Regions from separate parts of the Homo sapiens genome. Here region 2 is linked to region 1. Evidence: fine-mapped expression QTL. Tissue or cell type: subcutaneous fat. Region 1 holds a variant in brackets; the other region holds the start of a gene. All regions are shown on one strand. Distances are between the middles of the regions.

The links. PIP is the estimated chance that this variant, and not a neighbour inherited with it, causes the effect.
Region 2: it holds the start of UVSSA, and the variant in region 1 is fine-mapped to the expression of UVSSA in subcutaneous fat (TwinsUK, PIP 0.95).

What each region holds. Positions count from the first base shown.
Region 1 is chr4:1,319,827-1,328,003 of GRCh38, forward strand. It overlaps MAEA (macrophage erythroblast attacher, E3 ubiquitin ligase), which reads left to right. Exons shown (of 9, transcript NM_001017405.3): 4 at 2,555-2,677; 5 at 7,801-7,877. Among named protein-coding and RNA genes, the nearest start is that of UVSSA, 23 kb to the right of the region's middle. RefSeq lists enhancers at 3,674-4,873, 6,048-7,247. The variant G/A (reference allele first, on the strand shown) is at 3,633.
Region 2 is chr4:1,342,411-1,350,561 of GRCh38, forward strand. UVSSA (UV stimulated scaffold protein A) reads left to right here and starts at 4,798. Exons shown (of 14, transcript NM_020894.4): 1 at 4,798-5,350; 2 at 5,680-5,779; 3 at 7,114-7,444. The coding sequence starts at 5,682. RefSeq lists enhancers at 2,515-3,038, 3,039-3,561, 5,407-5,486 and silencers at 3,857-3,946, 4,167-4,496, 4,737-5,176.

The DNA.
Region 1 (8,177 bases):
AAAAGAAATCATCAAAGCAAACATGCAAGAAAACACTATGAAGGGGCTCCAGAAAAGAATCATCAAAGCAAACATGCAAGAAAACGCTATGAAGGGGCTTCAGAAAAGAATCATCAAAGCAAACATTCAAGAAAACGCTATGAAGGGGCTTCAGAAAAGAATCATCAAAGCAAACATGCAAGAAAACGCTATGAAGGGGCTCCAGAAAAGAAATCATCAAAGCAAACATGCAAGGAAACGCTATGAAGGGGCTTCAGAAAAGAAATCATCAAAGCAAACATGCAAGAAAACGCTATGAAGGGGCTTCAGAAAAGAATCATCAAAGCAAACATGCAAGAAAACACTATGAAGGGGCTTCAGAAATCATCAGAACAAACGTGCAAGAAAACACTATGAAGGGGCTTCAGAAAAGAAATCAAAGCAAACGTGCAAGAAAACTCTATGACGGGGCTTCAGAAAAGAAATCAAAGCAAACGTGCAAGAAAATGCTATGAAGGGGCTTCAGAAAAGAAATCATCAAAGCAAACATGCAAGAAAATGCTATGAAGGGGCTTCAGAAAAGAATCATCAACATGCAGGAAAACGCTGTGAAGGGGCTTTAGAAAGAAATTATCAAAGCAAATATGCAAGAAAACGCTATGAAGGGGCTTCAGAAAAGAAATCATCAAAGCAAACATGCAAGAAAACGCTATGAAGGGGCTTCAGAAAAGAAATCATCAAAGCAAACCTGCAAGAAAATGCTATGAAGGGGCTTCAGAAAAGAAATCAAAGCAAACGTGCAAGAAAACGCTATGGAGGGGCATCAGAAAAGAAATAATCAAAGCAAACGTGCAAGAAGACACTATGAAGGGGTTTCAGAAAAGAAATCATCAACATGAACATGCAAGAAGACGCTATGAAGGGGCTTCAGAAAAGAAATCATCAAAGCGAACATGCAAGAAAACGCTATGAAGGGGCTTCAGAAAAGAAATCATCAAAGCAAACATGCAAGAGGCCGGGCACGGTGGCTCACGCCTGTAATCCCAGCACTCTGGGAGGCCAAGGTGGGCAGATCACGAGTTCAGGAGATCGAGACCATCCTGGCTAACACGGTGAAACCCTGTCTCTACTAAAAATACAAAAATTTAGCCGGGCGTGGTGGCAGGCGCCTGTAGTCCCAGCTACCCGGGAGGCCAAGGCAGGAGAATGGTGTGAACCCAGGAGGCGGAGCTTGCAGTGAGTGGAGATTGCGCCACTGCACTCCAGCCTGGGCGGCAGAGCGAGACTCCGTCTCAAAAAAACAAACAAAAGCACACATGCAAGAAAATGCTTTGAAGGGGCTTCAGAAAAGAATAATCAACATGCAAGAAAACGCTATGAAGGGGCTTCAGAAAAGAAATCATCAAAGCAAATGTGCAAGAAAACGCTATGAAGGGGCTTCAGAAAAGAAATCATCAAAGCAAACGTGCAAGAAAACGCTATGAAGGGGCTTTAAAAAAGATATCATCAAAGCAAACATGCAAGAAAACGCTATGAAGGGGTTTCAGAAACGAGAAACCGTTAAAGAAAAGATGCAAGGAAACAACACTGTGAGGGGTTTCAGAAAAGAGAAATCATCAAAGCAAACATGCAAGAAAATGCTATGAAGGGGTTTCAGAAACAAGAAATCATGAAAGAAAAGGTGCAAGAAAACAACGTTATGAGGGGTTTCAGAAAAGAGTAATCATCAAAGAAAACAGCGCATCTGTGAGGCCGGTGGTCCAGACGTGGGGCTGTGGGACCCAAGTGGTGAACTGTGGCCTCATCCTGGGCCGTTGGGTCCTGGGCTATGTGCAGGCGGAGGTGCCGTCCTTGGTCCCACTGGGGAAGGTCGGGAGTCATTGCTGCTGAGGACCACCTGAGCGCTTGCCCCAAGCCTTGCCGTGCCTGGTGGAGTCCCGTACCAGCTGCTGTCCTGCCCCTGCCAGAGACCATGGGTTCCACTGCTAGGCACTGAGCACCCACCCCCTGTGCCCGGCCACTAGCGGAGACTTGATGCTAAGCCTGGGTTACTCTGTTTTTTTTGTTGTTTTTTTTTTTTTTCTTTGCTTTCATATAAATCATTGGTTGTAACTACCGCGATATTAGCCATAATGTGTTTATGTATTATTTAGCATGTTATTATTTGCTTACTGTTGATTTTGAAATGAGGGGGCTGCCCAGGGAGGGCCTGTAGATGTGCTGGGGGGCTGTGGGGAGTGGAGACAGGGCCGCCTGGCATGTGGCCTGGCCCTGCCTGCATGTGTGTCTCAGCAGCTCCTCTCCATGGACAGGTGGGGCCAGCCTGGCTCCCTTGCCCGGCTATGGCTGCTGTCTACGTGAGCGTCCGACCTTTTGGTCCTTGGGGGCTGTTCTGTTCCTAGGATCTCAGAGCGGCCCTGAGTAGTCCACGAGTGCAGACCCACAGTGTGGACTGGAGATGCATCTCGAGTGGTGGCCGGTGCTGGGCCTGCCTCATGGAGGCTGGGGTGTGGGAGGGTGGCATGGGGGCCTTGAGCCAGCACATTCTGATCAGGTGCTGCTTCCTTCCTCTAAGGACCTAGTGAATATTGAGATGTTCCTGACGGCCAAAGAGGTGGAGGAGTCCCTGGAGAGGCGTGAGACGGCCACCTGCCTGGCCTGGTGCCATGACAACAAGTCCCGGCTCCGGAAGATGAAGGTGCACGGACTCCCAGGTTGGGGTGGGAGTGGGTCGGGGCCGAGGCTGCGCCACCTGCCCTGGAGCCAGCACCCCCTTGCCTGGTGGTTCACAGTAGTTTGGTTTTGGTTTGTAAGGTGGGGGTTGGGTTTGGGAGTTTTTTTGGTGGCTGTGTTACACTTTTAGGCTAAAATCTGGAAAAGTGCACCTCATTTGGCATTACAGTTTGTGTACAGCTGGCATGAGGCTCAGAAGGAGTGGGTTACAGGAGGCTGACCATGTGCACACAGAGTGTTGGGGCTGCTGGGCTTAGAGCCTGGAGACAGGTCAGTCCTGCTCCATGGGGGTACTCCATGGGCTCCCTGTGCTCAGTCATAGACACAGAAAAGCTGGTTGGGAAGTCATTCTCCATCTGCGAGGCTGCAGAGCTCTGGGCTGTGATATTGTTAATGAATACCCACTTTTTTTTTTTTTTTTTTTTTTTTTTTTTTGAGACGGAGTCTCGCTTTGTCGCCAGGGTGGAGTGCAGTGGCACGATCTTGGCTCACTTGCCTCCGGTGTTCAAGCGATTCTCTTGCCTTGGCCTCCTGAGTAGCTGGGATTATAGGCATGCGCCACCATGCCCGGCTAATTTTTGTATTTTTAGTAGACATGGGATTTCACCACGTTGGCCAGGATGGTCTTGATCTCCTGACCTTGTGATCCACCTGCCTCAACCTCCCAAAGTGCTGGGATTACAGGCGTGAGCCACCGTGCCCGGCCGAGTACCGACTTTTGTAGAGACCAAAAGAAGCTTAAGAAATGGACTCCTAAAGGACAAAATTTAAACCTGCTTATTAAAAGGCATTGTCACCCTAGGGGCTTGCAGAAATGTTTTAACTTATGTTAACACTTCTGCCTCCATTAGCAAAACTTTTCTGTCTTCTAAACTGAGCGCTGCTTTAACCTCACCCTGGCTGAGTTTGGCAGGGTGCAC[G/A]CAGTTACCAGCCAGGAGTGACACACTGCCACTCAGGGCCGCCAAAACAAGCACGAAGCAAAGACGGGACGAAAAAGTAGAGCGGCTAGTAGCTCCCCTAAAGAGAGTTTGGACCTTGGTATGGAAACCCTAAAAGGAAAGCCAGAATTGGTATGTAACCTGCGGCCCCACTACACAGTGCCAGCCCCACACTCCCTCCCAGAGAGCCGGCACACACCTCACAGTGGGAACTCTGCCAGGGCTGTTTCCTGTGGATGTCAGAGGGAAGATAGGTTCTTGGTGCTGCCAGGATATTCCTGCAAGCCCTAATTACCTGCCGGACAGTGTTGCTGGAGGGTGTTGGAGGCTTGCCACGAGCACACGACCTGTCTGAAGCTGCTGTGGGGACAGGCAGGGCCAGGACTCGGGGCCCTGAATGCATGCCTGGGGGACGAGTGTGCCTGGTGTTGGATGAAGTTGAGATTGGATGCCTGGTGGATGAGCGTGCCTGGTGTTGGATAAGTTGAGATTGGGTGAGCATGCCTTGTGTTGGATGAGTTGAGATTGGATGAGCGTGCTTGGTGTTGGATGAAGTTGAGATTGGATGCCTGGTGGATCAGTGTGTCTGGTGTTGGATGGAGTTGAGATTGGATGCCTGGTGGATGAGTGTGCCTGGTATTGGATGAAGTTGAGATTGGATGCCTGGTGGATGAGTATGTCTGGTGTTGGATGAAGTTGAGATTGGATGCCTGGTCAATGAGTGTGCCTGGCGTTGGATGAGTTGAGATTGGATGCCTGGTGGATGAGCGTGTCTGGTGTTGGATGAGTTGAGATTGGATGCCTGGTGGATGAGTGTGTCTGGTGTTGGATGAAGTTGAGATTGGTTTGGATGAAGTTGAGATTGGATGCCTGGTGGACGAGTGTGTCTGGTGTTGGATGAAGTTGAGGTTGGATGCCTGGTGGATGAGTGTGTCTGGTGTTGGATGAAGTTGAGATTGGTGTTGGATGAAGTTGAGATTGGATGCCTGGTGGATGACCGTGCCTGGTGTTGGATAAAGTTGAGATTGGATGCTTGGTGGATGAGCGTGCCTGGTGTTGGATGAGTTGAGATTGGATGAGCGTGCCTGGTGTTGGATGAGTTGAGGTTGGATGAGTGTGCCTGGTGTTGGATGAGTTGAGATTGGATGAGCGTGCCTGGTGTTGGATGAGTTGAGATTGGATGCCTGGTGGATGAGTGTGTCTGGTGTTGGATGAAGTTGAGATTGGATGCCTGGTGGATGAGTGTGTCTGGTGTTGGATGAAGTTGAGATTGGATGCCTGGTGGATGAGTGTGTCTGGTGTTGGATAAAGTTGAGATTGGTGTTGGATGATTTGAGATTGGATGCCTGGTGGATGAGCGTGCCTGGTGTTGGATGAGTTGAGATTGGATGAGCGTGCCTGGTGTTGGATGAGTTGAGATTGGATGAGCGTGCCTGGTGTTGGATGAGTTGAGATTGGATGAGCGTGCCTGGTGTTGGATGAAGTCGAGACTGGACGGGGCCTGAATCCATATTTAGATGCTGTCCAGAAATGCGCCCTGAAGACTCCAAATGACACGAAAACATGCCCGGTACGAGATGCGGCCGAGCCAGTTGGGGTACACGGCTGTCTGTGCAGTCTGCTCACATGTGCACGCACGCCAGGGGGTGTGTGGGGAGGCAAGGAGGAGCCAGACTGTGCTCTAACGGGTCCCTGGGACCAGCTGTGAGAACCTAGATGGGAAAAGAAACTTGAGACCCAAGTTTGACCTGGCTGAGAGATGGATTTCACAGGCATGGGTGGGTGAGTGGCCCTGAAGGCCCCTGAAGCAGTGATTTGTTTGCTGCACGTCTGTGCGAAAGCCACACGGAGCCATCAGTGTGGGCGCCTGTCGCAGGGCGGGCACAGCCTTGTTGGCGCTCCACGCCGTATGGGACAGTGTAGACTCGGTGTTTTAGATTTGGGTCTGAATACCTAAGTTTCACGACATAGACACACTTACATATTAGTGGACCAATTGAAAGTAACCTACTAGAGCAAAAGGTGTTATTGAAAAGCAGGTTTGAGGTGTCTATTGTGTGAAGCGGTAACCTAGAGTGGGCCCAGAGTCCTGCTCTTCTAGAGCACCCCCTCGGCAGCTGCGTCCTGCCTTTAGACAGAGCCCCGGCACTCGCCTGCTCTAGACACGGCAGCCATCAGGCAGCCCCTGGGAGGCAGGTGGGGCCCTGGTGGGGAGCCTCTATCTCTTCCCGCTGGCCCTTCCCTTCCTCTCCTGCCAGGCTGGCTCTGAAGGGAGCGGAGTGCTGACCGAAGTCTGCCTGCTGATTAGTGGGGTGGGGACTCGGGACCCTGGGATGACTTTGTGCCTCTCGGCTGATTTGTACCAAGCCTGGCACTCCCCACCCAGAGCCTGTGCCACTGCTGGGGTCAGAGACAGTCCTCCTGCCCCAGCTTGGAGCAAGCCTGTGAGTTCTGCGTCCAGCCTGTTGACCCGTCTGTCTAGGGACACAGGGTGATGAGGGGCTGAGGGTACAGGGCAGAGGCAGCAGGGCAGGGACCTGAGCCCCTCTGAGCCCCTGGAAGGCAGGTGGCCCCCGGGGGTCTGGGCAGCCCAGTCCTCCCCACACCCACGCGGAGCCACTGCTGTGGGTGCTATGCGTGTCGGGGCAGCAAGGCTGGCAGGCGGGGTGGGCTGGAGCACAGGTGGCTCCTCAGAAAGCTCAGTGGGGAAAGCTCTGGGAAGCGGAAGTGATGAGCTTCAACTTAAATGCAGTGGTCCGGGGTGGATTCATCTGCCACGTGGAGTTTCTGTTCATGCCGTCCTGAGAGCCAGGCCATGTGAACCCAGAGTGACACGCGGCCCCAGCCCAAGACTCGCTCCGTGGTGCCCACGCCTATATCCTGTTTCCGGGGTGAAGCCCTGAGAATGTCCTGAAACCACACGGAAGATCTTACGGTTTAGACGGACATGTCACTTCCGTAGAATCCGCGTCTCATCTTGGATGACTGCGGTCAATGTTGCCGCTGCCCCCACCCCAGCCACAAGTCTCGGCCCACGTTGGACTGAGGTTGCTGAGATTTCAGATTGAGGGTTGGGCTTCCCTTAGGTGCACGTGAGAGGCTCATAGGCAGACACATGTGGGACTTGGTCCTGCAGGAGCTTCCCCCACCCCCGCCCCTGCCTCAGGCATAGTGCCTTCAGCCAGCAGCCCCAACTCGGCCTCTCTCCGTCTTCTACACATCCTGGAAGCGCCCTCCCTTCACGCGAGCCGCCCCTTGGCCTCACAGCCACCTAGGACCTCAGTGTCCCCTGGGCCAGGCCTCCATTCCATGTGCCACCCGCCTGGGGCCTCGGCACCGGCCCCGGCTTCTGCCCGCCATGTTCTCGCCAGGTGTCTGTGCGGTCCCCCGTCCATAACCTCGGTGCAGGCGCTCCCCGCCCTACCGACCTGGGTCCTGCCTGCTGCAAGCTTGCTTCTCTGCCTCATGCCCCTGTGAGGCACCAGCCAGCAACCCCACATGTGGTCCCTGTCTCCTCCCCGCCCTGCCGACCTGGGTCCTGCCTGCTCCAAGCTTGCTTCTCTGCCTCATGCCCCTGTGAGGCACCAGCCAGCAGCCCCACATGTGGTCCCTGTCTCCTCCCCACCCGGGGCATCAGCGCCTCGGGACAGGACTTGCCCACGTTCTCCCAGAACAGCCCCGGGTTCAAGCCAGCACCCAGTCTACATTCGGGATAGTTGGGTCCAGAGGCCCGGTGGGAGTGTAGAGGAAGCAGTGGCCTCAGGGCGGGACCCAGGAAGCTGCTTTGTCCTTGCAGAGGGGTTGGTGCCTTTGCTCCAGCAGCTGCACCTGCTGCTCTGCCCTCCCAGCTGTGCTCCTGGAAGCGCCCTGAGCGCCCTGGCCTTCGGGTTGAAATGCTGGGCGGCTGCACGCCCCACCGCAGCTGCAGGAGCAGGGGGCGGGACTCACATTCAGAACCCAGTGTTCCCTGGAAAGTCTGCTGCAGGTTAAAGTGGCAGCTTCAGCCTCAGCCCTGCCTTCCCCGTGCCTGTGAGAGAGGGGTTCAGAGCTTTGGTTGTGGGGTCTGCTGGTGGACATGCGGGTGCGGCACCCGGGCACCTGGGCTCTGTGGGATGTGCTGTCTAAGCCCTCGTCTTGTCTTTGCCCTCAGAGCTGCCTGGAGTTCAGCCTCAGAATCCAGGAGTTCATTGAACTCATCCGGCAGAATAAGAGACTGGACGCTGTGAGGTAGGCATTGCGGACGTGCGTCTCCTCGAGGGAGGGCAGGATGTTCGGCTGCGGCCCCTGCCAGCCCTCCCTGTCGTGGTCTGGGTCCTGGGACGTCCCCTGGGTCGTCCCCTGGGTCTTGAGTCTGACCCCTGCCTGCTCAGGTGGCTGCTTCTCCCACTGTTCCTGAATGGGACTTGGGGAGTGAGGCCTGGAGCCTGGCAGGGCCCCCGCCAAGGTGTGGCCCCAGGTGGGCATCCAGACCCCCGTGGCTGCCAGGGGAACCAGCTTTGAGGTCCCGACCGTCCACGTAAAACACGT
Region 2 (8,151 bases), 23 kb after region 1:
TACTGATTTGTAGGGATTCCTCACATACAAATCCTTTGAGGGATATGTGTATTTATACTTTATTGACTGTCATTTGATCAGCAGATTTTTTAAGTTTTAGTGCAGTTCAATTTATTCTTTCTTTTGTGGCTAATGCTTTTCTATGTTCTAAAAAAAAAATCTGCCTATTCCAGGGTTGCAATAATATATCTTCCAGAAGATTCAGTTTCGGCTTTTAAGTCTGTAACACATCTCTTAACTTGTGTGTGTTGTGTGAGGAAGAGCCTGAGGATGATTCCCCACCATCCCATATGTTTACTCTATTGTTCTAACACCATTTGTTAAAAAGACCTTTCTTATCCCGTTGAATAACGTTGGCTCCATTAGAAAAAATTCCTGGCTGTGTTAAGTTGGGGTTTATTTCTGGACACTACCTTCTGTTAGACTGGCCTTTAGGTCTATCCTTGTCCTAACACCACATTATCTTAACTATTGCCGTTTTAAGGCAAATCTTGAAACCAGGGGGTATGATGAGTCCTCCAGTTCTGCTTTTTCAGAATGGTCTTGGTGGTCCTAGGTCTGTTGCATTTCCACGCACGTTGTAAAATCAACTCATCAGTGTCTGCTGAACACTGTAAAAAGTGTGCTGGGATTGTCACTGGAACTGCAGTGAACCTATCATCCCTATTTGGGGACGGTATTAGTTTGCTCGGCTGCCGTAACAGAAGACCACGGACTAGCGGGTTTAAACAATGGACATTTATTTCTTCACGGTTCTAGAGGAGATGCTGGCAGGGTTGGCTCCCGGTGAGGCCTCTCTTCCCGGCTTGCAGACGGCCCCCTTCTCACTGTGTACCTCTCGTGGTGGACTTCCTCCTGTGCACACACATCTCAGGAGTCTCTTCATCTTACGAGGACATCAGTCCTATCAGATGAGGGCTCTATCCCTAGAATCTCATTTAACGTTCCCCTCTTTAAAGGCCTCATCTCCAAATAAAGTCACATTGGAGGTTAGGGCTTCGACATAGGAATTTGGTAGGCAGGGGCCACAATTCAGTCCATAACAAGGACTTATAAATCATAACAATATTGAGTCCTCAACCCATGAATATGGTATATCTTCCTGCAGATTTAGATCCTTCTCGCATCTAAGGTATTGCCACCTCCAGGAGGCAGATCATGAGGTCAGGAATTCGAGACCAGCCTGACCAACATGGTGAAACCCTGTCTCCACTAAAAATACACAAATTAGCCAGGCGTGGTGGCACGTGCCTGTAATCCCAGCTACTCGGGAGGCTGAGGCAGGAAAATCGCTTGAACCCAGAGGGCAGAGGTTGCAGTGAGCCAAGATCGCACCATTGCACTCCAGCCTGGGTGACAAGAGTGAAACTCCGTCTCAAAAAAAAAAAGTATTTATAGAACTTTTCATTCCTTTTATAAAGTTTGCCTCTGGTATCATTTTCCTTTCATCTGAAGAGCATCCTATAACAGTTCCTGGACTGCAAATCTGCTGGTCATAATTCATGCAGCTTTTGTCTGAAAATGCTTTTACATCACCTCAGTTTTTAAAGGCTATATTGCTGCATATACAGTTCTAGATTGACAGTATTTTTTCTTTTACCACCTTAAAGATGTTCCATTTTCTTCTGGCTTTTTTTTTTGGGTGGAGGGGGAGGAGGGGACAAGAAATCCTTGGCTTCTTTGTGCCTGTATGTCATACGCCTTGTTTAATCTGACTGCTTCTAAGATTTGTCACTAGTTTTCTGCAATTTAAGATGTGCCTTGGGTGGTTTTCTTTGTTTATCCTGCTTGGGTTTTATCATCTCTAAGTTTCCATTGGTTCTTTTAAAATATCTTTTAGAAGTATCTTCTAATTCTTGGCTTGGTGCAGTGGCTCATGCCTGTAATCCCAACACTTTCGGAGGCTGAGGTGGGCAGATCACTTGAGGCCAGGAGTTCGAGACCAGCCTGGCCAATATGGTGAAACCCTGTTTCTACTAAAAATACAAAAATTAGCTGGGCGTGGTGGTGGGCGCCTGTAATCCCAGCTATTTGGGAGGCCAAGACACGAGAATCATTTGAACCTGGGAGGCAGAGGTTGCAGTGAGCCGAGATCACACCACTGCACTCCAGCCTGGGCGACAGAGCAAGACTCTGTCTCAAACAAAAACAAACAAGAATATCGTCTAACTCTCATCATGATTTATCTTGGCTTTCTAATCTTATCCAGCATTCAACAAATATTGAGCACCTGCTTTTTGTCTGGCTTCATGAAACAAAGATCCCTATTTTCAGGGACTGTATGTTTTAGGAGTGAAGAGAAAAAAGCGAATCACCTAGTAAGACAGTAAGTCTGTGTGACACAAGGGCCAGAAGTGCCCTGGGAACAAGCACGGCAGGTTTAGAAAACGGATGGGGGGTGTTGAGCCAGGGAGGTGAGCGGGTGCAGAAGTATTTGCTCAGGGTGAGACATGAGCAGTGGCTGGAAGGAGGCAAGGAACTCTGTGGATACTGGCAGAAGCTTCCCGGCAGAGGGATCCGCTCCCCAGAGGCCGTGTGGCAGCAAGAGCAGGCTGGAGAAGTCAACCGGTGGGATGCAGGGGGCAGCAAACACAGGCCACGACAGGTTTTGCCTTGCCCTGGGATGGGAGCCGTCGGAGGATTTTGTGTAGAGGAATCCTGTGATCCGACCTTAGACTTTCAAAGGTCCCTCTGGTTGCTGCATGATGGTCTAGGGGTACCAGGGTGCAAGGGAAAGACAAGGTGACGGCAGTGACCTGCTGCAGGGGTGGCCAGGAATTGGCAGTGGCAATGAGGCAGTGGGACGTGCTCAGATCTGGATGTGTTCTGAAGGTAGGGCTGTCAGGATTTGCAAACCAAATGGGCATGGAGTGAGAGGAAGAGAGAAGCCCAAGTGAGTCAGATAATTGGTCCAAGCGAACAGAAGGATGCAGGGCAGGCCCAGGCACGGTGGCCCAGGCACGGTGGCTCACGCCTGTAATCCCAGCACTTTGGGAGGCCGAGGCGGGCGGATCACCTGAAGTCAGGAGTTCGAGACCAGCCTGACCAACATGGTGAAACCCCGTCTCTACTAAAAATTCAAAAATGAGCTGGGCGTGGTGGCGGGTGACTGTCATCCCAGCTACTCGGGAGGCTGAGGCAGGAGAATCGTTTGAACCCGGGAGGCGGAGGCTGCAGTGAACCGCGATCGTGCCACTGCACTCCAGCCTGGGTGACAAAGCGAGACTTTGTCTCAAAAAAAAAAAAAAAAAAAAAAAAAAAAAAGGCTGCAGGGCCATCAGCGGATACAGAGGGCAGTGGACGGGCAGCTTGGCTGTGCTGTTGAGCCTGAGGGCTGAGAGGACACCCCGGGGCAGTGTAAAGGAGACTGGACTTAGCAATTGGTAAGAAAAGTTGGATAAAGAGAGGGTTTTGTTAGTATGGGAGAAACGGCACCCTTTTATACTAATGAGAACTAGTAACAACAAAAAAAACCACGCTGTAGAAGACAGAGGGAAACTGCTGGATGGGTGCCTTGGAGGAAGCCACAGGCCGGGGATTGGATGCACAGGGCAAGGGGCGCTGAGGGAGGGTCTGGCTGCAGCTTGCTCAGTGAAGCAAGAGGCAGGGTGAGGAAGGGGTGAGGCGGAGGAGCGGCTCGGGGCTGGCTGCAAGCTAGGAGCTGGGAGCCACTGACGCCCAGGGACAGAAGCTGGTGCTGCAGAGAGGGGCGGCGCAGGGAGTCCCTCTTCTTTTCCTTTTTAAAATAATTGCTTTACTGAGATATAACTCACACATCCTGAAACCCACCCTGTAAAAACACGATTAACAGAGTTGTGAGCTACCACCACCGTAATGCAAGGGCACGCCCATCCCCCCGAAAAAGAAACCCCGGCCCGCCGCCGGCGGCCCCCGCCCTGCACCCAGCCCCGGGAGCCCAGTCGGGCGTCTGCTCTGCGTGGCCTGTGCCGGGCGCCCCGCGAGTGGGGTCCACACCACGCTCCTCCGAAGCCACGGTTTCCCAAGCGCGGTCTCCAGGTCCGTCCGTCCGCAGCCGACCTCGCACTCCCCTGCGTTCGAGGCTGCGGACTTCGGCGGCAGGACGGACGGCGCCTCTGCTTCTCATTCCGCCCAGGGCCAGCCCGGGCCCAGGGGTACCTGCTGTGCGTCTGGCGCCGAGGTGGGCCCCGAAGACCCCCAAGCCCGCCCAGGGATTCCCTTCCCGAGGCCGGAGCGGGGAGGCGCCGCGGGGTTCAGGGCGCCCTGCGCGGGGCGAGCTCGGGGGCGGGGGCCCGCGCCCGCCCGTCTGGGCGGTCCTCACCGGCCCTCTGCAGGTGAAGGGACCTGGCTGCGAGCCCGCGGGCGGGCGTGGCGTTGAGGCCCAGACCGGAACTTCCTTTCGGCCTCAGTTTCCCGGCCGGCCCCGCCCCCGGCGCCCGTACATGCGGCCCCTTTAAGGACTTTCTGCGCCCTCCCGCCTCTTTTTTCTCGTGCGTCCCCCTCCCCACCCCCGGCAGCCTGCCTCGCCCTCGCCGGGAGCGCGCCTACGTCACCGCGCAGACCTCGGCCGCGTCTTTGCGCCTGCGCCTCCTGGGCTGGGGTGAGCCATTGGCTGTCGAGCTCAGGGCACGTGCTAGGGGGCGGGGCCTTGACCGGAAAGGGTGGGGCAACGGCGAGAAAGGCCGCGTCGAGCGGTAGGTGCAGTCGTCGCTGTGGTGACCCCAGGTCCTGATGCGTCCGGCCCAGGGCCAGCCAATGGCGGTAGAGGTCTTGGGCACCTGACAAGAGGGGCGGTCCCCCCGCCGGAAGGGGCGGGGCGAGGCGAGCGGCCGCGTCAGCGGTAGGTGGGGCTGTGGTTACGCTGCCGGGCGGGGGTCGCGCCGGTTCGGTCCCCGGGGCTCTGCGGGCGCCGGGCAGAGACCTGCGGCCAGGGCGTGTCCCGTGTGCCCGAGAGCGCCGGCGGCGGGGCCGGAGGGCGGGCCCTGGGCCGAGTGACAGGCCGCAGCCCCCCGAGCACCGTCGAAGCCGGCGCGCCCGCCCGGTGCAGCCGCTGTGCGAGAGCGACCCCGCGGTCCAAGCCTCGCGTGGCCCTGCCGGGCCCCTTCTTTCCCCGAGTAGGGCGCAGCTTCCCAGCCTCCGCCCCGGCCTCGCCTGGCGCTTCCTTCCGGGTCCTTCGGCCTTTCCCTGGCGGTGCGGCAGGCCCTCGCCTCATCCCACCAGGCACGCCGCGGTGCTCGGCCCTGGGTATCCGGGCAGGCTGCCTCCGTTAGGGCCGCCCCTGCTCTCCGGACGCGACTTTTCATTGGTCTCAGAATTTCTTGGCTCCTCTTGGCCTCTGCAGCCTTGCTGGAGGCTGCCCTGCGGAATCTGAGTGAATAAGGGAAACAGCAACAGTCACGTTGGGGAAAAGCTGATTCGGACAGCGCCACTGGTTCCTTTAACGCACGACCCTCAATGCAGCGTCCCACACACGGGATTGTAGAGGTCCCGAGTTTAAGGTTCACTTTTAAAACTGCAATCACCGCCGTAAAGGCCTTGCTGGACACACATATTTCCCAGAGAGGCACCCACAGATGGACCCCAGCCTCAGGGTCCTCCCGGAGCTTTCGGTTTATAGTGGAACCCAGTAAACACGTTAATAACACCGAGAGCTATAAAATACAGATGGTGATATAGCATCTCTGCCTTACTTATTTCTAGATATGGATCAGAAACTTTCGAAGTTGGTAGAAGAGCTCACAACTTCAGGAGAACCCCGACTAAATCCTGAGAAAATGAAGGAACTGAAGAAAATTTGCAAGTATGTCTTAGGGTTCAGTAACAGTAACTGACTGGCCCACTGAGCCCAGGACACACACAGGGCCCTGCCCTCCTGCCCCCACCTGGGAGAGAACCACCCGAGGGACACACCCAGGACATTTTCTCGGGGCCCTGCAGTACCCGGCTCTGACGGGTGGTCATGTTCTGGGGTCGGGGCGTGTGGCGTTGGGGACCCCACTGCTCTGTGGTTGGTGCTTCTCTTCATTCCCATTTGTGTGGTCTGGAGCACATCCTGTAGGAGTTCTTGAGTGCACAAATGTGATTCAGAGAGAAACGTGCATCTTTTTCTTTGCTGCTGGACTTTTCGAAGGGAAAGAATAGAGCTTGCTGATGGGCGAGTTGGTCCATCGCCTTTAGGGTATGTCCACCTCTGTTCACTTCCTCCAAGGAAAACGCCGGAGGGGATCTCTGCCGTCACCCTCAGGCAGCCAGAGATTCATGGGGGAAGCAAAACTTCCCCTCGGAGGGTGGAGCATAAGTCGAGGACACTGATTATTCTGTATCCTGTGTTTGTAAAATGGCAGTTTATAGATTGTTTATACAGTGATGGAGTGTTGACATTTTGATAGAAAATTTCAGGTCAGGTTTTGTGGCCTGCGCCAGGAAATCGAATTCGCAATGGTTTATGTGGGGTCAGGAGCTGGGAATAGGAGCATTCAGGAGGGGCTGGGAGATGTCCCGAGCTCTAGGCCTTCCTTCCTTCCTGCAGCAGGAGGCACCCAGCTGAAACAGTGTGCGTGCTGGGCGGTGTGCGTTGTGCCAGGCGGTGTGTGTTTGTGCCGGGCGGTGTGCGTTGTGCCGGGCGGTGTGCGGTTTGTGCCAGGCGGTGTGTGTTTGTGCCGGGCGGTTGGCGTTTGTGCCGGGCGGTGGGCGTTTGTGCCGGGCGGTGTGTGTTGCGCTAGGTAACGTGTGTTTAAAGAGCCAGATGGTTTGTGTTTCAGGCTTTGCTGTAATGCCTCAGTTGTGAACACAGCTGTAGATGATGTAGGTGGATAGATGGGCGACGTTCCAATGACACTTTGTGAATGAACACCGACATTTGAAGTGTATATGATTTTCACATTTCACCAAGTATTTTTTGTTTGTATTGACATTCTTGGCTTGTGGGCCACACAGAAACAGGCAGGGGCTGGGGAGGTAGATGTGGCCCTTGGGCAGTAGTTTGCAGACCCTGCTCTAGAAAAGGGGAGAATGAAGATGGGAAGGCAGTGGTGGTCCCTGCCACACGTGCGTGCGGCATCCATGCACGGAGAGTCTCCCCCCGCCCATCCTCTGCGTGTGGGGCAGTTGGGTCAGGCCAGCTCGCATCCCCAGGTCTTCAGAGGAGCAGCTGAGCCGCGCCTACCGCCTGCTGATAGCACAGCTGACCCAGGAGCACGCCGAGATCCGTCTCTCAGCCTTCCAGATTGTGGAGGAACTCTTCGTCAGGTCTCACCAGTTCCGGATGCTGGTTGTTTCCAACTTCCAGGAGTTCCTGGAGCTCACGCTGGGCACAGACCCCGCACAGCCTCTGCCGCCCCCCAGGGAGGCGGCACAGAGGCTGAGGCAGGCGACCACCCGGGCCGTGGAAGGGTGGAATGAGAAGTTTGGGGAGGCCTACAAGAAGCTTGCCTTGGGCTACCACTTCTTAAGACACAACAAAAAGGTAGGTGGGCCTGGCCCATTTTTTCAGAGACTGGTTACCTGACGTGAGGAGGGCAGACGATACCAGGGTGAAGATGCGCCTCCTGTTGAACCTAGCACAGCAGGGGCCTGCTTGGCCTTGCCTGAACACCCAGGCTGCCAGACCATCTGTGGGGTGTGGGAAAGAGGGCAGCATCTAGGGTCACGGCCTCCCTGAGAGGGGCGGCGCAGCTCTGAGAGGAAGAGCATAAGCTTTATGTGTGGGTGGAGCTGAGGCTGCATGTGTCATTTTTTATGTGCGTGTAGGAGACAAAGGAAAAGCCAAATCCAACTTTTCAGATGCAACGTTTTCTGTGACAGTGGCCCCTGGACTCTGGGACCTGTCCCAACCTTGCACTTTAAGGCTCCACCCGCACCCTACTATGGGCTCGGGCTGGTGCCTGGCATGATGAAACCCACCAGGATCTGCCACTGTGGCCTGAACCCAGCCTCATTGCCCAGACCCTACCGTGCCCCTTACCCCACCTGCCACGAAGGCTCAGTCCTCCCCAGTGCAATGACCCAGCCCTGCTGGCTTCCCTGTGTGCCCTTGGAGTGCCCTGTCTCCCAGGGTTCATGCTCAGGGTTTGTTTCAGACTCCTGGGTCCAGTCAGCAGCCTCTGCCTGCTAATGGAACAAGCACACTGCTCTCCTACCTGTGAGGTACTTGGGGTGAGAAGTCTCGTCACC